Linked DNA regions of Homo sapiens. The protein of the gene in region 1 interacts with the protein of each later gene in a pairwise test. Each region holds a gene or a part of one and is shown on either strand. Other genes may lie near its edges.

Region 1 (3,500 bases):
AACCAGAGTATGGGGTTAGAAATGGAGGCAGAGGGACTACCATGTCGGGGAGGATGCACAATGAATTGGACGAAGGTTGCAACTCAGTGAGCACCGTACCTGTAGTGTGTCTTAGTAATAGCAGATGCCCAACCTCCATGCCTAACTCCTTTGCCTACCCCACCAGTGTGCAGCAGCCTCTGCCGCACCCTACTGCAGTCTCTCCTATTTCCCTGGCAGGAGAGCTCAGAGACTACTTGTGAACAGGCCTCAATGCCTATAGCAAGGCAAGGCTTGGGAGAAACAAATGTCCTCTGGGAGCAGCCTTGGGTAAAAGATTAACTGCGCACTGAGCTTTAGATCCCTGAGTGAGAAAGCTGTGGGAAAATGAGTGTGTAGCTCATGAGAGGGTTTGGAGAAAAGTGGTGACATCGCAAAAATCCCAGGTTTTGTTGAAGTTGTCTGTGGAGGGGCACTCATAGAAAGGGCACTGGACGTGAGCATTTCCCTTGTAGTTGAGATGGGATTTGACATGACTTCCTGGTGGTGGCAAGACAAGAAAGTGGCAACCTGGGACAGTGGACCTCACAGCTCTCCTGCTAATGGTGCTGATGGCTAAGCTCAGCTCTTACCCTTGACCACTGGAACAACTTAGACATGTCACCAGCTTTCTGAGCCTGTCTCATTACGATGAAAATTGTGATACAGGTTAGTGTAAGGACCGACAATAATGCATATAACATCAATAATGATGGATATAGAATTTCTGCAGTTATTATAATCTGGCTCTCCAGTATGGTAGTCGTGGGCCACATGTGGCTATTGAGTTCTAAAAATGTGGCTAATAGAACTGAGGAAGTGAATTTTCAATTTGATTCCATGTTTGTTAATTCGAACTGAAAAACACCACGTGTGCCAAGTGGCTGCCATACTGGAGAGCGTGGTCAAATGACATGCCTAGCTCAGTGCCTTTCGCATGGGAGGTATGCAGTACTTCCTGCCACGATGGCTGTTACTCTTGTCGTTGTGAGCAGTGCCTTGGTCCCGATGATGATTCTCCAAAATGTAATCTCTGCTGACAGAACAAGAGTCTGCAAATTGGGAGTCTGGAAAGGGAAGAGAAGGGCTTTGTCCCTGGCCCCAAAGACTCAGGGAGAGGTTTACTGGCCAGGTAGAAAGGGCGTCCAGGTGAAGGGACCCTGGTTCAGTGATCTCCAACCTGCACGTCTCATTTGTGAGGAAGCCGTAGGGTGTGGACTTTTCTTGTTTCTGACCTTGAGTGATTAGAAAATAGCAGCTTTTATATGTCACAAATGGACTTTAGATAAGCATGAAGATGACGAAGACTGTGGAATATGTAGCTAAGAGTCTTACTAAAATCCTCTCTAGTGTATTTATATATTTAAGCGTTTGGTAGTACTTTTTTAGCCATCAGCGTTCTCTATATTAGGTTGATACAGAAGTTATTGAGGTTTTTGCCATTGAAAGTAATACGTCACTTCATGCAGAGGTGGAATTGGCGCTCTGAGCTTGCTTGTCAAATTCACAGGCATTCACTTTTCTTTCATAAACATTTAGGACTCTGTATTTAGGAGAGGAATCACTGTGAATGTAGACCTCGGGTTGGTCATTTTCCTAGTAAGATAGACCAGACTGACTGGAAAAGTCACCCTCTTGGGCTATCCTGCGTATGTGGCTCGGCATTGCTTCCGTCAGGATAATGCATCAGTTTCTTGGACAAAGGGTGCATTTCTGCTATTTGAATGCAGACATATTTTTGGATATAAGCCACGCAGTTGCATCCCATTTCTTCCGTAGGTAAAGGCTGGGTTTCTAATTGTGATTGAGAAGCTTAGCATAGATGCAATGTCCCTATCACCAGATGGCTAGTGTGCTCTGCCTTGTCTGCCTTTTACCTTAGAGAGGGTGCTTCCTTCTGACACGGGTATTGCTGGAGTACACATTCTGTTGCATGAGGTCAGGGGAGCAAGAAATACAACCCAGACTTGCGCTCGGAAGCCCTGCCTTCATTTCTTCTCTGTAGCTGGCTCCCTTAAGTATTAAACAGCAGTATTCTAATATCAACGTCCCTTTTTTATTTGCTGTGACTTGCTGTGACTACGGTGATTTTAGTTACAGTAATTAGGTCACTCTTCATGGAGTCGGGCTATTTTAAGTGCCTCTTTAAGGAATATTGTTGCAGATCAGTAATTTTACAATTGGATGTTCTTGTGCAACTTTATTAAATGTGATCTGTCTTTTAAATGTTGCCCTTTTACAGTTACACATTTCTAATTGTTGCTGTAAATGCATTATCACTTTGAAATTAATTAATTTTTCCATTTTGGCTGCCTGCAATATAATAATCACTAATGAGAAACTCACAGGAATCAATTCTCAGCACAGCGGCCCCTACTGGTAAAGCCATGTCTCTGCCTCCCTCTTCTTCTTCAGATCCAGAGAACTGGACAAGTGTATTGGGGCGTCCTGGGAGGGAAGTGTTTGTTTCTTCCTCCCTTCAATTTATGGTGAAATAAAAATCACAGATAAACTTGGAAAGTGAGTTATTTTTAAGTGTCGTTCTAAAAAAGATGCAATATACTTCAAATAGCTGCTTCTAAAATATGTTAAAGGAAACTAACATTTGCTGAGTACTTTCTAATAATGAAGTCACATCATACGTGCATTACATGTTTATTTTCTTGACTCTAGAGCATTCTTTTATGCAGTTAAATTACTCTAAAATGTTTTGCACCTGCACGCATTAATGTGTATTGTTTGGTAAGAACTTTCGAGTTGGTGAAAAAATGTATTGTATTTTAGTATCTATATTTATATATACATATTAGTCTATGGGTTTTAATTCACAAAACCAGGTGTTGTATCTGGTGCACATAAGGGATTTTCAAGGCTAATCTTGGGTTTTTGCAGTTGTAACCATGTGTGATGACTTTAGAATCCTACCACACTTCCAAATAGAGATGCAGATTGACCATTTTCCCAGATACCACGATGCTTTATGTATCAGCATATATTTTCATTAATTTCTCATAATTTCTGTTAGAATTAATAATTCCAAGTTCTACAATCTTAGAATTATTATCTTTATTTTGTAATTGAAAAGCACAGAAACCTCATGCAGCGTGTTCAAGAAAATGATATACCAGCCTTGTAAACTTTCACTTGCTAATTGCAGCTGCATTTGCTTTGTCCAATGCACGGTAATGCCCCTGGCATCCATATCTAGTTATGCAGTTATGCTTCCTTTTTAAAATGTTTGACAGCACCTTCACTGAAATGAATGCTGCCACCACCGCCAACCCCACCTTTTTTTTTTCCACATAAGCTTTCATTTCTGGTAAATACATCCTTGCCAGAGTTCCCAGGTCCAAGCCGGTCCTTTGTGGACCAGTATGCAGATTTGAAGTTGAGCACTGTCACTTGCCTCTTAGGAGTGTTTTGTGCAACCACATATTTGTGTTGGCAGATAACAGTAGAAAGAATATCATGTGTTAGGGTAG
Region 2 (4,074 bases), on another chromosome or scaffold:
CTGTGTCTCAAAAAACAAACAAACAACAAAAACAAAACTGCCCAGTGGCTTCCTACTGTGCTCAGAATTAAATCCAAATGCCCATCACGCCCTGCAGGTCCCCAAATGATCCAATTCCCCCATTAGAAAGTAAGTTCAGGAAAACAGCAATTTTGCTTGTTTTTTTTTGTTTTCTTTTTTTTATTTTCTTTTCCACTGCTATGCCCGCAGGGCCTGGCACACATTAAGTACTCAATTAAGCAACAGCCGAATGCACCTGGCTATCAGATGGCCTCGTGCTGGGATGGGGGGGATGCCTATGTCACCTCCTGCCTGACATCTATAAGACACCCTCAGGGTTCAGTCGCATCTGCTGTTCATTTACAGTGTAGACTCACGGTTTTTTGCAGTGGGCAGCTGTGAGGACCCACAGTGGATGGATAAGGACCCCACCACAGAGCAAGTGGCCCGAGGTGTAGAGGGCAGCTTGGTAGGGGTGAGATGTCTTGTCGCAGGGTCCGCCATGCACCAACTTATTCTGCTCCTCTGCCCAGGCTGAGGGAGAGAAGATCTGAGTCAGAGAGGAGTTCTGGAGAAACCAAGCGCATCCCCCTCAACATGAACTCCAGTCAAGATTGGTCAGGTGCAGTGGCTTATGCCTGTAATCCCAGCTGAGGCAGGAGGATCGCTTGAGCCCAGGAGTTTGAGACCAGCCTCGGTAACACAGTGAGACCTCATCTCCACACACACACACACACACACACACACACACACACACACAAATTAGCAGGGTATGGTGGCATACGCCTGTAGTCCCAGCTACTTGGGAGGCTGAGGTGGGAGGGTCACTTGAGACCCAAGAGTTCAAGTCTGCAGTGAACTATGGATCATGCCACTACACTCCAGCCTGGGTGACAGAGTGAGACCCTGTCTCAAAAAAAAAAAGCTTCTCTGTATTTCCACTCCCAAACTTACCCCATTCCCATTACAAACCCAACTGTATCCCCTATTCCCGGGCTCTCTCCAACTTTCCAACCTACCTCCTACCTCTTCTATGTTTAGATCCCCATCCCTAAAGCCAACCCCACCCCAAACCCTCATATCTTCAAACCCACCTCCCACCACCCTCCCTATCTGTATTCCCCACCCTTAGCCTAATCCCCAACGTCTTCCTCATTTCAAAGCTCCCCCACCCCAACCCTGTGCATATCCCCATCCCCAATACCAGCCTCTTCTCCATCAACAAGCCCAACCCTGTCTGCAAGCCTCCCCCATCCAAATGCCCTTTCCCCACCTGCAGCAATCAGACTCAGCACCACCATCAGCTTCTTCATGGCCGCTCCTGAGAGGGGAAGCCACATGGTCCATTAGTCACTGCCTCGACCCTCCCCCCATCCCTCTGTCTGCTCCCTCTGCATCCTCTCCTTCCTTCCTGGCCTGCTATGGTCTCCTGCCTTGACCTCTGTCCTTCCCATCTAGCCTCCTGATTTATTCTTCCTCAGCCCACATCTTCCATCAGAGGATCCCACGAAAACAGTGCCAAAGAGAATTCAGAACTACGTCCACTGGTCCAGTAACCCATGGTGAGATTCTGATTAGATCTTTCTACTTTCTTGGGCACTGATTTGCCTTCCTGTCGACAGGAGAGGGTTACCCTAGGGGGCCCTAGCGTTCTTCCTCTGTATGGGAGTTTTCCTCGGAGCCTGGCTCTGTGCGCAATGGCCACCCACCCCGCCCACCCGGCAGGTTCTGTGATGTCTGTGATCTCACCTGCTGCAGGCCTCCGGGCTCCGGGGATTCTTGAGTCGGGGGAAGGAACAGCTTTGAGACGAGGAGGCAGAAAGAGTTAGAAATGCGGGGAGCCGTGAGGAGAGAAGACACTCAGATGCAGTGGCAGAGCCAAGCGGAGGACGCAGGGGCCGCAGAGCCCAGGGCTGCAGGGACTGCCAGACACACACCCCCAGCTCCCAGGCCTCCCTGGAAGAGGCTGGTTCTGTCCCCAGATGCTTCTGGAACGTCCTTTTAACCCCTGTCTCTCAGGTCCCTGAGCCAGGAGACTGGCTACACCCTTTTCCTCCTTACCCAGGCCTCCCACACACATTCCTCCCGCCCCCACGCTCTGCTCTTGGTGACCCCTGACCAGGCCTCCAGGGAAGGGAGCACTGGTCCCTGAGTGCAGTGAGGGCCTGGACTCCTGGGTCTGAGGGAGGAGGGGCTTGGGGGCCTGGACTCCTGAGTCTGAGGGAGGAGGGGCTGGGGGCCTGGACCCTTGCGTCTGAGGGAGGAGGGGCTTGGGGCCTGGACTCCTGGGTCTGAGGGAGGAGGTGAGAACTTGGACTCCTGGGTCTGAGGGAGGAGGGGCTGGGGGCCTGGACTCCTGAGTCTGAGGGAGGAGGTGGGAACTTGGACTCCTGGGTCTGAGGGAGGAGGGGCTAGGACCTAAACTCCTGGGTCTGAGGGAGGAGGGGCTGGGGCCTGAATCTGAGGCAGAGGAAGTTCTAGTCGGCTCAGTCCTTAGACCTCCGGGTTTTGGAGAAAGAAAGTGTCTGAAGACAAATTCCGGCCTCTGGGGCAAGCAGATGGTGCCCCAGGCCTCCCTGCACCCCCAGCACTCTCTGTGCCACCCAGGGACCTGCAGGCCCTCACTCCGGGCTCTAGAGCCCTCCGGCACTGGGAAGCAGCCTGCCCAGGTTCAGTGCGGTTGGGGTGACTCACACACCTGCCCGTAGGTCCCTCTGTGTGCTGCCTGCCGACCTCTGTGTCCCCAGGAGAGAGCGAGCCAGCCAGCCGGGGAGACAGCTACAGCGTGTGTCACCACACTGGCCCCCGCCCCTGCCCCGGGCTGGGGAGCAGGCCCAGGCGCGATGGGGAAAGGGCCCAGGAACAATCGGGCTTTGTCCGCCCCCAGCACCCCAGTGCCATGCTCCCAGCAGCTCCGGCCTCAACCTCTCTTCCGGCGGGCAGGCGGGAGGGCGGTTACATCAATGGCTTCCTTTTGTCCCTGTCTGACAGTCCTCCTTTGCAGTCTCTGACTGCCCACCTGGCCCTGACTGGAGATTTCGGCACTCCACATCCTCCTGGTCCTTCTCCTCCAAGTCTGCCCACCCCTGAGGTCTCTTGCTCCATCTGTCTCCCTGGCCATGGAGGGGAGGGAGCTTCCATCTCTCTCTCTCTCCCATCTCAGTCTCTGTATTTGTGTCTCTCTCCCTCTTTTTTTCTCTCTCTCCCTTCCTCTCTCCCTTCCTCTCTCCCTTCCTCCCTTCCTTCCTTCCTTCTTTCTTTCCTTCCTTCTTTTCTTTCTTTCTTTCTTTTTTTTTGACGGAGTCTTGCTCTGTCACTCAGGCTGGAGTGCAGTGGTGTGATCTCAGTTCACTGCAACCTCCGCCTCCTGAGTTCAAGCAGTTCTCCTGCCTCAGCTTCCCAAGTAGCTGGGATTACAGGCACCCACCACCACGCCCGGCTAAATGTTTTTTGTATTTTTAGTAGGGAAGAGGTTTCACCATGTTGGCCAGGCTGGTCTCAAACTCCTGACCTCAGGTGATCCACCCACCTTGGCCTCCCAAAGTGCTGGATTACAGGTGTGAGCCACTGTGCCCGGCCTCTCTCCCTTTCTTTCCCCTTGATTCTCTGACTCTCCGTGCTTATCTTCTCCTGGGTCTCTTCTTAGATTTCCCCGGGGGTAGCACTGTGTGTGCCCAGAAGGGAGTCAGTTTCCCCAGGAAGTAGCGGGGATGATTCCCGAGCGATGAGGAAGCTAGCAGGATGGAAGAGGACTTGAGGACTTATTGATGAGATGCGGACACACAGCGAGAGGCATGGAGTTAAGCAGAAATCGGAGAGCACTTGGGAACGACGTGGGGCTGTGATAAGATGGTGGTGCTGGGCAGTAGCAGAGGGATCTGGGAAGATTTAGGGAGGTGTCTTTGAACTTGGGCCTAGAAAGCTGAGCCAGGCGTAGGTCAGGAGGAAAGGCCGTGAAAATGCCTGGCCTGGGTGCACATGGGAAACCACAGGCAGTGGTTGGGGTGGTTGGTATGGGCTGGAGGGTGAGGGTGTGTGCGTGGCAGAGTGGAGAGAAATGAGGAGGGGGAAGTC
Region 3 (3,500 bases), on another chromosome or scaffold:
AGAAGTATATGAAACAAGTGTAAATAGTAAATCATCCTTATAAAATATAGTGCTTAGTTTTAAGCAGGTTATCAAAAGCCTATGCTAAGAAGCCTCCACTGGTAACATCCCTTTTAAGAAATAAAAATGTTAGCCTAGCCATCTTCTTTCCCTAATGTTAGTGACTGACAATTATGATTAATTTCTATCTTACAACACTTAGCTAGGGAGCTCCAATCCATATTTCTAGTGTCTATACTTTCCTATTCCACATCTTCAGTTAACTGTAAGTTAGAGATTTCTATACTATACTGTTTTCAATAAGAAGTCCGGGTTGTGTACTCATTCCTCCACTATACACCTGTGAACAAATTTACTGTCTTTCCCACTGACAGTCCGGTTGTCATTATACATCTCACTGCTAACAACCCTTAGTGTATCAAATGACACTACCCACACCCCAAATCTTGCTATACATTATTCAAAGTTTACCTTACTTTAAGTCCACTATATCTATTCACATTTATATGCTCTTAGTCAGAAAATAAAATACCTCTCTTGAAATGGGCCTGACTCCGGAGAGGGAGACCAGATTCGCTCCGCCTCCCGGGTTCCCGCCATTCTCCTGCCTCAGCCTCCCCAGTAGCTCTGACTACAGGCGCCCGCCACCTCGACCGGCTCATTTTTTTGTATTTTTTAGTAGAGACGGGGTTTCACCGTGTTAGCCAGGATGGTCTCGATCTCCCAACCTCGTGATCCGCCCGCCCGCCTCGGCCTCCCAAAGTGCTGGGATTACCGGCATTAGCCACCGCGCCCGGCCAGGTTTAAATCTTGAGTCTACCACTTTCTTCTAACTGTAATCTTGGGCAAGTTACTTACATTTCCTATACTTTACTTTCCTCATCTGTCAAATGAAGCTAATAACTACCTATTTATGGGATATTTTGAGTATTAAACGAATGAGTACATGTAAAACACTCAGAACGGTGTTTGGTGTTTGACTAATACTTTATCAGAATTTGCTATCATTATTATTTGGTAATGATAATCTTTTCACCTTTACTTAAGTTGTTCCCTAGCAAGAAATATTTCTCCCCTTTTTCTGTCTACTTAAATTGTAACAATCCTTGAGTTCCCATTGCCTCCATCAACATCTTCTGACCATGTAAATTTGCTTATTCTGATGTTTCCCAAAGCACTTATTTATTGGTGTATTGTTTATTTTGGTGTTTCAAAATTTCTCATGAATGTGTAACTGGTTTGCCATTATAGTCAGCAGTTCTGCGGTAAATGACCACGAGTTATATTTCTTTTGAACCCTTTGCAGAACCATCATAAACTGTACTACCACTTAAGGTGTGTGGTCAATAAAAATTGGTTAAGGTAGATTTATTCCAGAAACCAACAGCTTTAAATAACAAATGTATTTTAGATGACTAATTTAAATTTGTATTCATTTTGACTTTTATTTAATGGCTTTTCAAAGACTAAGTTTACAATTTCATTTCCTCTAGGTGCTTGCTCTCTTTCTACTCCTCCATGTGCCTACCAAACCGCTTCTCTAATCTCTGAACATACTGAGCCGCTTTTCATTTCCTAAACACGTCAAATGCTTTCACATCTGCATGCCTTTGCACGTTGCTCAATTTGCCTGAAAATTCCTTTCCTCACTGCTCCCTGGCTCCCTCATCTTCCCCAACCCCGAGCAGACACACTTCCTGTAAGTCAACCAGTTCTAGGGAGTTCTTTTTTCAAGACCCAGCATATCAGGCCTTTGATGCTTCCCTAACACTTCAAGAAGGATGGCTCTCTCTTCCCTCAGTATAGCTCTATTTAGCATCGATTACACTCTTCTGTGAGTCTTTGATGTCCTGTCTCTCCCGTAGCTCCGGACACCTCTAAGAAATAAACCAGATTTTATCCACCTCAGCTTCCACAGAGCCTAGCACAGTGCTTTATTCTTAAAAAAAAGAAAATTAATTAATTGTTACATAATTTTACATATTTGGGAAAATTTCATCACAAGCTTTTTATTTTTCCTTTTCTTACAAAACTATCATTTAGTTTTATTGTGTTTTCTAAGGAGAAGGGGCTTATTCACCTTTAAGAAATTAACCTGTTATATAGAATCTTCCAATTCTGAATGAGATTCAAGATATCATAAAATAAGCTTAAATAACCCTCCTGCGGTACCTTTTAAAATAGAGAAACTAGCCGAATTTTAATGCAGGATTCACGTTTTAGCTATACGCCTCTAAAAGGGGCAGAGGAGATCTATATATAAGGGACAATCAATCCTGAAAGGTTATTATTACTGCTACTTTTTAAAACATTCAGAAATGCTTTGGATCTTAATGATACTTTGATTTAAAGGTAAAGATGAAATGACTGCTGAATACAATTCACAAACGCGTAATTCCACAACTTTAGACGTCAATAAAGTTTGCTTAAGAGAAAATGCCTATGAATTACCTATTTGCCTTGTGTTTCACTTGAAAAGTGCAATATTGCGACAATGATTTGGCTACTGGAAGTGGGATATGGGTTTCCTGGAGGAGACTGAAGCAAACTTCAGAGTAAAAGGAGAATCTCCTATATGAAAACCTTCTGTATCCTGGGTAACAAAATTTGTCTGCTTTGCTTGACTGATGAAGATTAGCTGACTTCCCGCATTAGTTTGTCTTGTAGGGGCTGAAGTGACAAGACAATAACTAAGTGCTAATTGTGCATAACCGGCACTAAAGATATGCAGTCCCATTATGGCATGTAATAAATGAAGCGAACACAGAAATATATTAGGTACTTTAATAATGATACTAGAATAGTATTTCGCAGCAATAAGAATGTGAACAGTTTTAGAGTCAAAATTTAGGAGTGTTTGTCTTACTTGACTGAGTTCTCCTGAGGAGACAGACTTAATTGTGAATGCAACTTTTTATTTCAATGGTGAAATAAAATAGATATATGATTTGTAAATAGCATTAACAACCTACAATTACTTTGCATCATAATAGAATTTAGGCTGGGTTTAGCACTTGAATGTTTTTATTTTCTATGTAGAACATGGATAAAATAGGTAACCCTACTTAATAGAAGAAAATGGACAAAGGACATAAACTGCCTACTTCTCTAAAAGAAGGAATACCAAAGGACCACCAGGGATCAAATAAATGCCAGTTAGAAATTATAATGAAATACTATCTTTCATCCCTTAAGGTGGCAAGGATTTTTTTTTTTTTTTTTTAAACGTAATTCCTAGTGTTTTAGAATGAATGTGAGGGAATGCGTAGTTTTGTAGATTTCTGCTAGGAGAATAATTGGTATAACTTTCCTGGAGATCATTAAGCAATGTACAGCATATGCCTTCAAACTGTTATATACCTTGTTTAAGTAATCATGCTCTGTGAATTTAACCAGATAGAGATATGAGCATTTGTTTTTATACAATCTGAATATCTACATTTAGCAAGAAACTCTATTGTGATATATGTCTTGTGGGAAAGTCAAGTTAGTGGACTATT
Region 4 (2,789 bases), on another chromosome or scaffold:
AGAGGTATCTTTCACTTCAGCAATTGAATTAGCTAGCTATTGTATATGGTAACCTGATGCAACTTACTGATTGGTTCATAAGACATATTTAACACAAAATCAGCCTATGGGAAAATAGATTTCAGATATTAAAATTCCCTGTGGGTATCTGGATGGTACTATCCCTAGATAACAGCTGGGGACCTTATTTGCAGAAGAGGAGCCGGAAGACAAGCTGAGCTGATTTTCCTGTTTCTCCCTGAGCTTTGCTCTTCCAGGAGTCCCCCACCCCTCCTCCCAAAGAGGCTCTCTATTGAGATTGTTACTGCTATGAAAGCCATATGTTACAGGTTCATGTAGCCATTCTATGTTGAAGGCAAGCTTCCTTGCACAAAGCATTCCAGGAAGCCACTCTGATTTCTAGATCTTTATTTACAGGGTTTTTGTTTCATTTGCCAGTGATATAGTTCGAATTTTTTTAAAAAGGCTTGTAGTATATTATGACCCATTGAGATGCATTTGCTCTTCCAAAAAGCACGTGTACAGGTCTCTTCTGAGCACATCTGCTCCTCTTTATGCACACCAGGAAAAGATTAACTCAGCTGTTCTGTTTTCCAGATTTGACTGAAGAACGACTTGGAGACGGCAAGTCGGCAGACAATACAGAGGTCTTCAGTGACAAAGACACTGACCAGAGGAGTTCCCCAGATGTGGCAAAGAGTAAGGGCTGCTTCACCCCTGAGAGCCCTGAGATAGTGTCCGTGGAGGAAGGGGGATACGCTGTCCAGAAAAACGGAGGCAACCCCGAGAGCCGCCCTGACAGCCCCAAGTGTCACGCGGAGCAGAATCACCTCCTGATTGAGGGCCCCTCGGGGACTGTTTCTCTGCCCTTCAGCTTGAAAGCCAACAGACCGCCGCTTGAAGTGTTAAAAAAGATATTCCCCAACCAGAAGCCAACGGTGCTTGAGCTCATCCTCAAGGGCTGTGGCGGGGACCTGGTGAGCGCCGTGGAAGTCCTTCTGTCCAGCCGATCCTCAGTCACGGGAGCAGAGCGAACTTCCGCAGAACCTGAGAGTCTAGCGTTGCCCTCCAATGGGCACATCTTTGAACACACCTTGAGCTCCTACCCCATCTCGTCTTCCAAATGGTCTGTGGGATCAGCCTTTCGAGTCCCAGACACGTTGAGGTTTTCTGCCGACTCTAGCAACGTTGTCCCCAGTCCCTTGGCTGGGCCTCTGCAGCCCCCTTTCCCCCAGCCACCCCGGTACCCGCTGATGCTGAGGAATACTTTGGCGAGAAGCCAGTCGAGCCCCTTTTTGCCCAATGATGTCACCCTGTGGAACACCATGACGCTGCAGCAGCAGTATCAGCTGAGGTCCCAGTATGTCAGTCCTTTCCCCAGTAACTCTACCAGCGTCTTCAGAAGCTCGCCCGTCCTTCCTGCCCGCGCCACGGAAGACCCTCGGATTTCCATCCCTGATGATGGGTGTCCATTTGTGTCAAAGCAGTCCATTTACACCGAGGACGACTATGACGAGAGGTCTGACTCCTCAGACTCTAGAACACTCAACACATCATCTTAAAGTGGTGCTGGATGGGTGGTGGCCAGGTGACATTTTCTGTGCGTTTTGACCCTGAGGCATCTGAGGAGAGGCCACATCTTGTGTATGCCCTTTCCTTCTGTTTGACAAAGTGACTGTGCTTGATTCTATACATTAGCAATAAAAACATAACTTATTTAACTTCTTGCACTTCACTGGAAAATGCCAAATAGCTCTGTTCTGTGGCTTTAGTGCTGAATGTTTATTGTAAAAGAGAGTCTAATGTTAAGAATAGTCTTGGGAAGGCTGGGTCCGTGGAAGATTTATTTGGGGATGTAAAGCTGAAGGTCAGCCTTGCACCTAAACCCAACCTGGAATGTTAAATGAAATAATATACTTGAATGCAATTTTGTAAAAGTGGATTCCTCAGGATATGTGAAACCTAAAGGAAGTGGTTCTGTTGCAAATGGACTATAAACAGGGACATTATATTCTTACACTAAAAATCCTTGCATTTTAAAGAGAGATGCACTTAAGAATAGAGTGAACTGCTCATATGCTTATTTAAGCTTGGACAGTTTTCAGAGACAAACCCCATTAAGAATTACTCTTTTCACATGGCTGAATCGAAACATGTGTAATGTCAATGTAAAACCAATCACAGCTGTGAACTGCATGAAATGTATTGTGAAACGAACACAAGATTAAGCTTTGTCAGGTTAATGTAGCATGTTAAGGACTCTAGAAAAAAATAAACTAAGGAGACGAGCGTGGTTTATGTCATTTCTACTTGTGGAAAGAGGATCTCTAAAAATAGAAACTTGATGTAAAAATGACTTTTACTAACGCATGGGCCAGGAATCAAATTATCAGTTAAATGAGACATTCCTGAGAAATATGAATGGCAAAGTTTTAGGGTTGCATTCAGAAAGATAATTTGTTCAAAATGGAGTTAATTCTCTCCATCCATTCACTTATTCAACAGATACTTACTGAGTGCCTACTATGTGTAAGAGAATGTGCTTTCCATGTATTGTCCAAGTTACCTACCCGTGAGTCCTAGATAAGCAGATATTTTAGTGGAGAATCCCATTGAAAACAAAGTAAAAATGGAAAACTCCCAACAATGTATAGTTGAGTGTGGGAAGCAAGGAAAGTGCTTAGCCCAGTACCTGACATAGGAAGTATGCAGTCCATGAAAACTACTGCTTCTATTAATGAAATTCAGTAGCCTTGCATTCAGAATATAGACGTGCATTCCTTCATTCT
Region 5 (3,500 bases), on another chromosome or scaffold:
CTCATGGCTGTTTTACCCAGTGAATTATCTTGTACCTCTAATCCCATCTTGGCTGCATCTCAGTGGATGAAAGCTAACATACCAGGCTTGATTCTTTGCACTGTTTTTCCTCTCTCCCATGTTTAGCCAGTAACCATGTCCTAGTGAGTTTCCATTTGGTGCTTAGCCCTCACCAGTCATCTCAGTGCGATGGTTAATGCTAGGTTAGCTACTGTTGAGGGGCATGTCCTAGATACCAGGCCCTGTGCTAAATACTTTACCTGTATCTCATTTGATTTATACAGTAACTCTCTTGGGTAGACATTATTTCCATTTTACAGATGAAAAGACAGAGGCTTAGGGTGATGAGAAAACTTATCCAAAGTCACATGGTTAGTGACAAGTGGATTTAGAATTTGACTCTAGGACTACCTGACTTTAAGGTTAATGGTAACAGTAGTAATAATAATAGCTAATATTTGTGAAGCTTTTCTTTGTGTGTGGCATTTTGCTGAAGGCTTAATCAAATGTTACATTAAATCTTCAAAACGATACTATGAAACAGGCATTGTTATTTCAATTTTCATTTTTTCCACCCATTTCTTAGTGATGAGAATTATTGCAATTTTCAGTTGAAGAATTGAAGGCTCAGAGAAGTTAAGAATCTTGTGCAAGAAATTGATAGTGGTAAATACTTACATTAAAGAGAGACCTCAAATCAACAACCTAACTTTACAAATTCAGGATATAGAAAAAGAACAAAATCAACCCAAAGATAGTGAATGAAGGAAACAATAAGAATTATAACTGAAATAAATAAAATGGAGGCTATAAAAACAATAAAGGGAGTCAATGAAACCAAAAGTTGGTTCTTCAAAACAGATCAACAAAATTGACAATCATTTACTAGGTTGACTGAGAAAAAAAGAGAAGATTCAGATTACTAAAATCAGAAATGAAAATGGGGGCATGGTGGCTCACACCTTTAATTCCAGCACCCTGGTAGGTCAGAGGATGAGGGTTGCTTGAGGCCAGAAAGTCATGACCAGCCTATGCAACATAGGGCGACACAGTCTCCACATTTTTTTTTTTTTAAACTAGCCAGGCATGATGGCATATGCCTGTAGTCCCAGCTACTCAGGAGGCTGAGGTAGGAGGATCACTTGAGCCCAGGGGGTTCAGCCTGCAAGTAAGCTATGATCAAGCCACTGCACTCCAGCTTGGGTTGGGTTACAGAGTGAGACCTACTCTCAAAAAAATTGATGACATTGCTACCAATTCTACAGAAATAATAAAGATTAAAAGAGTGCGGTAAATAATTGTATGCCAACAAATTGGATAACCTAGATGAAACGGACAAATTCCTGGAACACACAAAAAAATCTGAATAGACCTATAATTAGTAATAAGATTTAGCCAATAAAAGCATTTGACAAAATTCAACATTCTTTTATAAATAAAAACACTCTGTGAATGGAAGGAAACCACCTCAACATAATAGAGGGATACTCAATGGAGAAAGACTGAAAGCTTTCCCTGTAAGACCAGGAGCAAGACAAGGATGCCTGCTTGCCCCACTTCTCTTCAACATAGTGTTTTAAGTCCTAGCTGGAGAAATTAGGCAGCAAACAAACAAATAAACAGACATCCAAATCGGAAAGAAGTAAAATTATCTCTGTTCACAGATAACTTAAACTTATATGTAGAAAACTCTACAGGGTTGGAGTTGTTGCTGGTGACCGAGGGCTTGGGCAGCTCCGCTGTGCAGAAAACAGAGAGAAGATTGCCGTGTGTGGCACCTTTGATTCCTCTGCAGGCATCGTTCAGTCAGAGTTGGCATCTCCCACCCCTCAGTCCACCCAAGTCCTTAAGAGCCCAGGGCAGGTGTGTGTGTCAGAAGACGGATGCACAACGATCTGAGGGCTCGGAGATCGAGGCCACCTGCTTTGTGTGGGAGAAGTACAGACTTTCTCAAATGTGAATAGGGCAGAAGCATTGAGTCTTGGGCAGATACAGGACTGACAGCCACAGCCTCTGGCACCTCTCCTGTTTCTTCCCTGACTGGCTGACTGCCTGGTCTTTTGGGGTACTCACCTGGAACATGCAGGTGCTGTTTCTTTCAGCTGCACAGTCCCACACCACCCAGCCAAGGTGTGTTTTTTCTGAGGCTTTGCTATTTAAGGACATCCTGGAGATGGGTGATGATGGGGATGGGGGTTTGAGCGGGAGACCAGAAGCAAGTCTAGAGGTGAGTTCAGGGGTCAGGCTGTGGGTCACAGGTGGGCAGCTCTGCCCAGGAGTTTGATGGGAACAGAGTTTCATTTTGGGAGGAAGAAGAGAGTTCTGTGGGTGGGTGGTGGTGATGGTAGCAGAACAACGGGAATGTGTTTAATACTACGGACCTGCACACGTGGAAGGGTTGAAAAGGTAAGTCCTATATTAGATACATAGTGGCTGGTAGTCTTATCCTCTCTATAAATACACACTTTTTGTCACTGCCCCTTCCCTGCCATGCAGAGTCCCCATGGCTGAATCTCCCTATGTCTCCAAGTGTGCGTCACTTGCTGTCCTCTGTGCTGTGTCCCATGTGCTGTGCCCACAGTCTTATACAGCCAGTGACTTCAGAGCCAGGACACAGCTCAGCAGTCTGTCATGAGGCTCCATGTCTTCCCATTTTCCTGCGGCCTGATCCAGGGGAGGCTTTGGTGTTGATTAGCATCTTGATTTAGCCTGATTCAGGACAGACACCTGGGCACCTTCTCCATATGCCCTGGTTCCACCTTAGGTGGCTTCAGGGTGGGGTCAGTCAGTCACTGGGGGTGCTGGGAGCAGAGATGGGGGCAGAGTCTGAGCTGCTCCTCCATCACCCAAGGGGCTTCCTCTTCTCATTTAAGGAAAAAGTGTGAGCTCATTTCAAAACCTCCTTGTCCCTTGTAGCTTATGGAGTAGGTAAAAGAACACAAAGAAGTGACAGAAAGGGAATTGTTGGTGACAGAGAGCAGGAACTTGACCCTGAGGACCCTTCCTCCTTTTTTCTCTGTGAAGCCCCTTTCACTACACAGGGCTCAGTGCTGAGGGAGCCCCCTCCTCTCATTCCAGGATGGACCCAAAGTCAGACATGAGAAATCAAAAAACAAAAAACAACAAAAAACAAAAAAACAAGGGGAAAAGAGTCTGCAGAGGTGAATTGGGAGGGTTCAGGGGAGAATTTGGGATTTGCGTGTGCCCCTTGGACACAGGTTGGGAAAGAAAATTTCTTCCTGGCTCTTCTCTGAGAGCCAGACTCCACCTGAAAATGTGATGCTAGTGCTTCATGGATCCACTTACCAGAGACTGTGATCATCGTGACTGTGGTCCTATTGAGGCCAGTGGCTGAGTTATGGGCTTGGCACATATAGGATCCGCTATTATTCACAGTGATGTTGGGGATAAAGAGCTCTTGTGTGGATTGCTGGAACGTCCCATTGATAAACCAAGAGTACTGTGCAGGTGGGTTAGAGGCTGCGTGGCAGGAGAGGTTC
Region 6 (3,500 bases), 9.3 Mb from region 1:
CACGTCTTTTCACCAAGCTAGCAGACCCTCGGGGGTGGAAGCGTACGGGAGGATGTTAGAAACGCTTGGACACCAAAGGCCCACCAGAACCTGAGCTCCGTGAAGTCCAGACGCGGGAGAGAAGCCCCAGCTGCCTGTACGTCTGAGGTTGCTGGTCCTGGAATTCCCTTGGAATTCCCTTGTGGCCCCGACACCCTGAGTACCAGCTCTCCCAGGGTCCCCTTGGAGAGAACCACCCAGGCCTCCCTGCAAGCAAACGTCTCGGTGCGTGTGGCCTTTGTGCCAGTCAGCAGGCTTCTCCTGCCCTGTGGAACTGGGACCTCAGAATCTCAGAAGGGCCCGCATGGCTGCCATGGCCAGTGTCAGATGCAGCCCAGCAGAGAGGCCCTGGAACTCAGAGGACTCCCAAAGTCCGTGAGCACAGTGTCCTCAACAAAACCCCCCCTCACCACACCTTCCTCAACAAACCCCTCACGCCAACTGGCTCTGGAGGACTGTGTCCAATTGCGAGCTGCCTTGGATTTAGGTTATGGTCCTGAATGCTGCTGCCACCACCTCCCTGAAGTGGCTCACAAGTCCTCAGCCTCCGCCGGAGCCCCAAGTGCCAGACTCCCCCTTCAGCCGCACAGCCTGGGCACTCGGACCAAGCTGCCACCTTCCCTGTGCTTGCCGGGGCCAGGTAGGACACGTCTCACAACAGAGCCTTTTCCGGGGGCGCCCTTCTGCAGTGATTCTTGCAGTCCTGCACTCTGCTGTGTTCTGCTCACACCAGGCAGGGGGAGAGGGAGCGTGGCCCCTCTGGGAAGCTCCCAGGACGGCAGGGGTGGGTGCTGCCCTACAGATACAGTACCTGCTGCACAGGGAATGGACGCCTCCTGGACGGTGGCCCCAGCCCAGGAATGGCTGGGACACCCACTCCAGTCTTGCCCACAGTCTGCTTCCAGAGGACACTTGCCCCTGCCTCTCCCCACCCCCACCACGCCCTGCATCTCGCAGCCACCTGGAAGGAGATGTAGACCCCACTGTGGTAAGGAGCTGTTCAGAGCCCCCGGAGCCCTCCACTTCCTACCACGCAGACATCCTGCTGCTGTGCGACACAGATGGACCAGGGCTTGTCCTGAAGGTCCCAGGATGCACATTCCTCAGGGATGGCTACTCTCCTCCCCCTCCCTGTTAACAGACTGGTTTTCCATGGACTCCTTTAAGCCCCCAAGTCTGGCCTCTGGTCAAATTTCAAAGACATGATGGGGTGGTCTGTTAAGACTGAGTAGCTCATGTGGCACCAGGTGAGGGCTGCTCAGGCCTGCATTAAGGAGGGGAGCCCGAACAACGGGCCTCCCCCTTCCCCCCACCCACAACGAAGCAGCTGCTGCTGGCTCCTCTCCCAGAGACTGGAAGAGAATTGATGAGAACACCGGGGACCCAGCAGTTCCACTCCCAGGCCTAAATCTAAGAGGGCAAAGTCAAGCCTCCACTCAAAACCTTGTGTGTGCACACACTCCCGGCAGCAGGATTCACAACAGCCACGGAGTGGAAGCAGAGCCAGCTGTCCAGTGGAGGATGAACACACAGCGGGGAAGACATGGGCCGTGCAACCGCGGCTGCCACAGAGAAAGCGCAGGAGCAGTGCATGCTGCGTGAGAAGCTGGGCACCAGGCAGAAAGCAGAGTCCGGGAGCTGGGGGAGGAGGGGACAGCAAGTGCCTGCTCAATGGCCCTGAGGTTTAAGGTGATGGAGCTGATCTAGATAGAATTGGGGGTGATGGCTGTATAACTGGGAATACACTAAAATCCCTGACTTGTACACTGTGGCCACCTGAAGTGAACAGTACACGCTTTCTGTCTCAGTAAAGCTACGCAAAGAACAGCAGACATCCCGCATGAAGTCAGCTCTCCAGGGCCGCACCATGGGAGCTATGGGCTGGCAGTGGCCGGCTCTGCTCTTGACACACAGGAAGGATGCAAACTCAGAGCCCCAGTGGGGTCACGGCCTTGCCCGGAGAACTCCCTCTGGGGATGGCAGCCTGCCGTCCCCTTGCCTAGCCTGGATGCCACATCCCGCGGCAGCGAAGCAGCCTCCTGCTTGACCGTCTGGCCCGGGGACCCTTTTGTCTCCTGGGTCAGTTTCATTCTTTCCCCAGGCTGTGCTCCTGATGAAGCAGCATCGTAGCTGATGTTGAAGGGCCTCACGCCAGCACCTAGGCTGGTCTTCCCTGGGTGCCTGCTTGAGCACGTGGCCCAAAACAGCCGTTGCATGGGGCACTCAGAACCCACCACACCCTCGCCCCTTCCCAGCCCGCCACCCTGTGGCTGAGGCCCTGTGCCTTGAGCAAGCTGCTGCCCCTCCTCCTCCTGGTCCAGTTCTGCCCACACCTGGGTGCCCACCTCCCCTCCCTGTGGTCTCCAGGAGCTGCCCCCAACATGCCCTGGGCAGCAGTGCTCATCGTAGCCCCGTCTGTGGCCTGGACAGGCTCTGACCACTCCTGCGTTGGCACAGCTTCCTCGGGAGGCTCCTGCCAACACCACTCGGCACGGTGGGCTCAACACGGCAGCGGCAACGGGTGGGAGTACTTGCCTCTGCCTGGCCCGAATGGCGGTTTTCCATTTGGATTTGGGGATGAGCAGCCAATGAGCCTATCTCATTCCCGTTAACGTGAGAGAAACATCCAGACGCTATCCTCAGGTCTCACACACCCCCGCCGTGCTCTGCACCACACCTGGCAGGGGCACCCCCGACTGTATGCTGGGCATCAGCTCCCAGGCCCGAGCGCCTCACCTCACACTGGGGATTGGAGCCCTCAGGCCCTAGAGACACTGGCTTGAGAAACTTTTGAGATGGAGTCTCGCTCTGTTGCCCAGGCTGGAGTGCAGTGGCATGATCTCAGTTCACAGCAGCCTCTGCCTCCTGCGGGTTCTGGAAATTCTTGTGCCTCAGCCTCCTGAGTAGCTGGAATTACAGGCGTGTGCCACCATGCCCGGCTAATTTTTGTATTTTTAAGTGGAGACAGGATTTCACCCTGGTGGCCAGGCTGGTCTCGAACTGATAACCTCAGGTGATCCACCTGCCTCGGCCTCTCAAAGTGCTGGGATTATAGGTGTGAGCCACCGTGCCTGGCCAAGAAACTTTTTAAAGAAAAAGTTTGCTCAACAGATAAGCTGAACCCCAGTCAGCAAAGGGCTTTGTAAACTGTCCTTGGGATGCAGCTCAGAGAGGAGGGTCCTCAGAGGGTGAGGTGCTGCCTAGGGGGCACCTGCAGCCACAGCAGCACCAGGCCCACACCCTCCGCAACCTCCCAGCCTATCAGGGACCTGAGGCGCAGATGGAAGTGGAGTTGTGGACACAGCAAGGGCCTCCACTCAGCCAGAGAGAAAGCAAGCTGCCCTGAGCCCAGCTTTCCGTGGCATCGTGGCCTCAGGCAGGTGTATTGTGAGTCTTGGGCCCCATGACAACTTGGTTGGGCCGGGCCAGCCTGCAGGGGGCAGAGAACAGCCAAGGGCCCA
Region 7 (3,500 bases), on another chromosome or scaffold:
CTAAAAATAGAAAATTAGCCAGGCATGGTGGTGGGCACCTGTAATCCCAGCTACTCGGGAGGCTGAAGCAAGAGAATTGCTTAACCCGGGAGGGAGAGGTTGCAGTGAGCCAATCAAGATCGCGTCATTGCACTCCAGCCTGGGTGACAAGAGCAAGACTTCGTCTTAAAAAAAAAAAAAAAAGAAAGGTGTCAAAATTCAAGGTCAGTGTACCCCAGATGTGCTTCAAGGACGGCCCAAATGTAGAGACAAAAACAAAGAATCACACATGCTCCATAGGATCCAGATTACTTACATTTCTGAAGTCCAGTGTTCATCTGCGTGTGAGAAAGAAGCTGAAAGGACAGGTCACCTGGCCCTGGTAGACAGGCTAGCATGGCAGATTGGCATCAACACAACATGGGGCAGTGGCTCACACTGTAATGAACAAAAACAAGGTCATGAAACACAAGGCAACTCATTCGAAGAAGAGAGTAGGAACACTGGATATGACTGGCGTGAGGCCCAAGTTTAGACACATAAAGCAATTTAATTAGCAGTGTGTTGGTTGAAAGTATACTTACATCTTTATCTGTGACGACAATTTGCTGTCAAATATCACTATGGTTAAAATGATTTTTCAGTTACCACAGATGTATGGATGGGAGAAATAAAACTGGAAAGCACCTATTCATACAACTGGAAAGTACAGGTGCATTTATAATGTCTCAGTATTCCTGAGGAGAGTGGGCCCTCATAGGGCCTGGCTCAGCCAGCCCATTTATAGGCCTGGTTGGAGACCAGCCAGACATTTTCAGAAGCAGCACATTATATGATTGCAAAGGTACCCAATGTCTGACTTGTGAGCCAGTAATATGAACCCACTTTTATTTTATTTTTTTTGAGACGGAGTTTCACTCTTGTTGCCCAGGCTGGAGTGCCATGGTGCGATCTTGGCTCACTGCAACCTCTGCCTCCCAGGTTCAAGCGATTCTCCTGCTTCAGCCTCCCGAGTAGCTGGGATTAAAGGCACCCGCCACCACGCCTGGCTAATTTCTTTGTATTTTTAGTAGAGACGGGGTTTCACCATGTTGGCCAGGCTGGTCTCGAACTCCTGACCTCAGTTGATCCGCCCACCTCGGCCTCCCAAAGTGCCGGGATTACAGGTGTGAGCCACTGCACCCGGCCATGAACTTACATTTATTTACTTATTTATTTATTTATTTAAGACAGAGTTCTGCTGTCACCTAGGCTGGAGTGCAGTGGTACAATTTTGGCTCACTGCAACCCTTGACTCCTGAGTTCAAGCGATTCTCGTCCCTCAGCCTCTCTAGCAGCTGGGATTACAGGCGCATGCCGCCATGCCCAGCCAATTTTTGTACTTTTAGTAGAGATGGGGTTTCACCATGTTGGTCAGGCTGGTCTCAAACTCCTGACCTCAGGTGGTCCGCCCGCCTCAGCTTCCCAAAGTGCTGTGATTACAGTCATGAGCCACCGCACCCGGCCGAACTCACTTTTAAATGGAAGGAGGAAAGCATCCTAGGAGGCACAATTAACCACTGTTAAAGCAAATTCTGTTTGCAAATTTCTGGGGCTTCACCCTTCCTGACATGCAATTAGACCTCCTGAACTACCTCTCCCACCCCCTCAAAAGAAATGCATTGCTCCCAGACTAAAGCAAGGAGAAAGGCTGCCAGCAGCTCTCTTCGTGCAGGCAATCCTGACATGTCAAGACCGCACGAGTTTCATTAGTGATGTTTACCAACCAGACATACACAGCCCAAGCAAGCAGACATTGATGGGGCCTTCTGTAGCGAAAGAAGCCCTGTCAACAATGCAAGCTCCTTAGGTAACAGAAATACGATTTTCCTAAATAAGTACACGAACTTCTTTTCCCATATTTCAGAAACCAAGGTGGCAAATTATGGCTTTAGATCACAGCAAAAAAGGAGTGGGGGAAAAGCTCAAAAGTTAAAGACGACAAAAATCTCCTTATTTTCTTGAGAGGGCTCTCTCAGGTATATTAAACTACCTTGTCATGATGAGTATCAGAGGGCTCCTGCTTCCAAGACCAGGTAGCTGAAAAGACACTTTGTAAAAGAGGCTGCTCAAACTGTGTCTAAGATAGCAACTGCAGAAAGAACTGAAGATTGAATGCCTTAATGAGAACAGAGCTGTCCAAGAGTTCTGGCACAGCGTCAGTCTTTTTAAGATCTCTGGTGGGTGGGAAAACAGAATGAACACAGTGAGCCAACTTCAGTGCCTCAAGAAAAAAAAAAAGTCTTGGCCGGGCACGGTGGCTCACACCTGTAATCCCAGCACTTTGGGAGGCCGAGGCGGGCAGATTACCTGAGGTCAGGAGTTCGAGAACAGCGTGGCCAACGTGGTGAAACCCTGTCTCTACTAAAAATACAAAATTAGCTGGGCATGGTGGCGCATGCCTGTAGTCCCAGCTACTCAGGAGGCTGAGGCAGGAGAACTGCTTGAACCCAGAAGGCAGAGGTTGCAGTGAGCAGAGGCTGCGCCACTGCACTCCAGCCCGGGCCACAAGAGTAAAACTCTGTCTCAAAAAAAAAAAAAAAAAAAAAAAAGAGAGACTTCTGTTGGGGTCTGGATGCTGATCTTTACATAATAACTTCTCCCTTAAGACCCTAACACAGCTGAAGGCAAACTCCAAGGAAAGGAAGAGAATTAACAAGTACTGGGAGCTAAAACTGTGAAATGGGCTGTATGAGGGGCTTTAGTGATGTTTTCTTAATTGAGTCTCTCAAGCCTTGGAAACAGGTAACAAACTTCACCTGTCATCTCATCATCTCTAGATGGGATTACTATTAGCCTTCTAAATGGTCTGTTCCACGCTTACCCTTTATCACCCAATCTATTCTCTATTCAGCAATGTTAGTTCTTTTTTTTTTTTTTTTTTTTTTTGAGATGGAGTCTTGCTCTGTTCCCCAGCCTGGAGTGCAGTGGTGCGATCTCGGTTCACTGCAACCTCCGCTCCCGGGTTCACGCCATTCTCCTGCCTCAGCCTCCCGAGTAGCTGGGACTACAGGCGCCTGCCACCATGCCCGGATAATTTTTTTTTGTATTTTTAGTAGAGATGGGGTTTCACAGTGTTAGCCAGGATGGTCTCAATCTCCTGACCTCATGATCCGCCCGCCTCGGCCTCCCAAAGTGCTGGGATTACAGGCGTAAGCCACCGTGCCTGGCCCAAACGGGGTTTCACCCCATGTTGGCCAGGATGGTCTCGATCTCTTGACCTCGTGTTCCGCCCGCCTTGGCCTCCCAAAGTGCTGGGATTACAGACGTGAGCCACCGCGCCCGGCCAATTCTGTTAACTGAAAGTCAGAGCAGCTTAAATATCTCTAATGACTTTCCATCTAAGAATAAAATACAAAATCCTAACATGGACCCCAAGGCCCTCCATGATCTATTACTACTGGTTCTCTGACCTCACCTTCTGACCTACCCTGCCCTCTCTTGCTGACTTACTTCCAGCCACCATGGTCTCACCATGGTTT

The links.
Region 2: the proteins of WWOX (region 1) and KLK6 interact in binary tests that used the Homo sapiens proteins (3 or more experiments, as listed by UniProt).
Region 3: the proteins of WWOX (region 1) and LMO3 interact in binary tests that used the Homo sapiens proteins (3 or more experiments, as listed by UniProt).
Region 4: the proteins of WWOX (region 1) and DMRT3 interact in binary tests that used the Homo sapiens proteins (3 or more experiments, as listed by UniProt).
Region 5: the proteins of WWOX (region 1) and CEACAM6 interact in binary tests that used the Homo sapiens proteins (3 or more experiments, as listed by UniProt).
Region 6: the proteins of WWOX (region 1) and JPH3 interact in binary tests that used the Homo sapiens proteins (3 or more experiments, as listed by UniProt).
Region 7: the proteins of WWOX (region 1) and FAM222B interact in binary tests that used the Homo sapiens proteins (3 or more experiments, as listed by UniProt).

What each region holds. Positions count from the first base shown.
Region 1 is NC_000016.10:78,435,154-78,438,653, forward strand, and holds part of WWOX (WW domain-containing oxidoreductase), read left to right. Parts: intron 1-3,500. UniProt on the Homo sapiens protein: Putative oxidoreductase. Acts as a tumor suppressor and plays a role in apoptosis. Required for normal bone development. May function synergistically with p53/TP53 to control genotoxic stress-induced cell death.
Region 2 is NC_000019.10:50,966,792-50,970,865, forward strand, and holds the start of KLK6 (kallikrein-6 isoform A preproprotein), read right to left. Parts: upstream 2,801-4,074; 5' UTR 2,699-2,800; intron 1,977-2,698; exon of another isoform or gene 1,801-1,976; 5' UTR 1,750-1,800; exon of another isoform or gene 1,726-1,749; intron 1,563-1,725; exon of another isoform or gene 1,482-1,562; intron 1,322-1,481; 5' UTR 1,314-1,321; coding exon 1,274-1,313; intron 706-1,273; exon of another isoform or gene 535-705; coding exon 378-534; intron 1-377. UniProt on the Homo sapiens protein: Serine protease which exhibits a preference for Arg over Lys in the substrate P1 position and for Ser or Pro in the P2 position.
Region 3 is NC_000012.12:16,554,163-16,557,662, forward strand, and holds part of LMO3 (LIM domain only protein 3), read right to left. Parts: intron 1-3,500.
Region 4 is NC_000009.12:989,444-992,232, forward strand, and holds the end of DMRT3 (doublesex- and mab-3-related transcription factor 3), read left to right. Parts: intron 1-597; coding exon 598-1,562; 3' UTR 1,563-2,289; downstream 2,290-2,789. UniProt on the Homo sapiens protein: Probable transcription factor that plays a role in configuring the spinal circuits controlling stride in vertebrates.
Region 5 is NC_000019.10:41,762,030-41,765,529, reverse strand, and holds part of CEACAM6 (cell adhesion molecule CEACAM6 preproprotein), read right to left. Parts: coding exon 3,307-3,500; intron 1-3,306. UniProt on the Homo sapiens protein: Cell surface glycoprotein that plays a role in cell adhesion and tumor progression. Intercellular adhesion occurs in a calcium- and fibronectin-independent manner.
Region 6 is NC_000016.10:87,693,008-87,696,507, reverse strand, and holds part of JPH3 (junctophilin-3), read right to left. Parts: intron 1,872-3,500; exon of another isoform or gene 367-1,871; intron 1-366. UniProt on the Homo sapiens protein: Junctophilins contribute to the formation of junctional membrane complexes (JMCs) which link the plasma membrane with the endoplasmic or sarcoplasmic reticulum in excitable cells.
Region 7 is NC_000017.11:28,766,291-28,769,790, forward strand, and holds part of FAM222B (protein FAM222B), read right to left. Parts: intron 418-3,500; 5' UTR 378-417; coding exon 296-377; intron 1-295.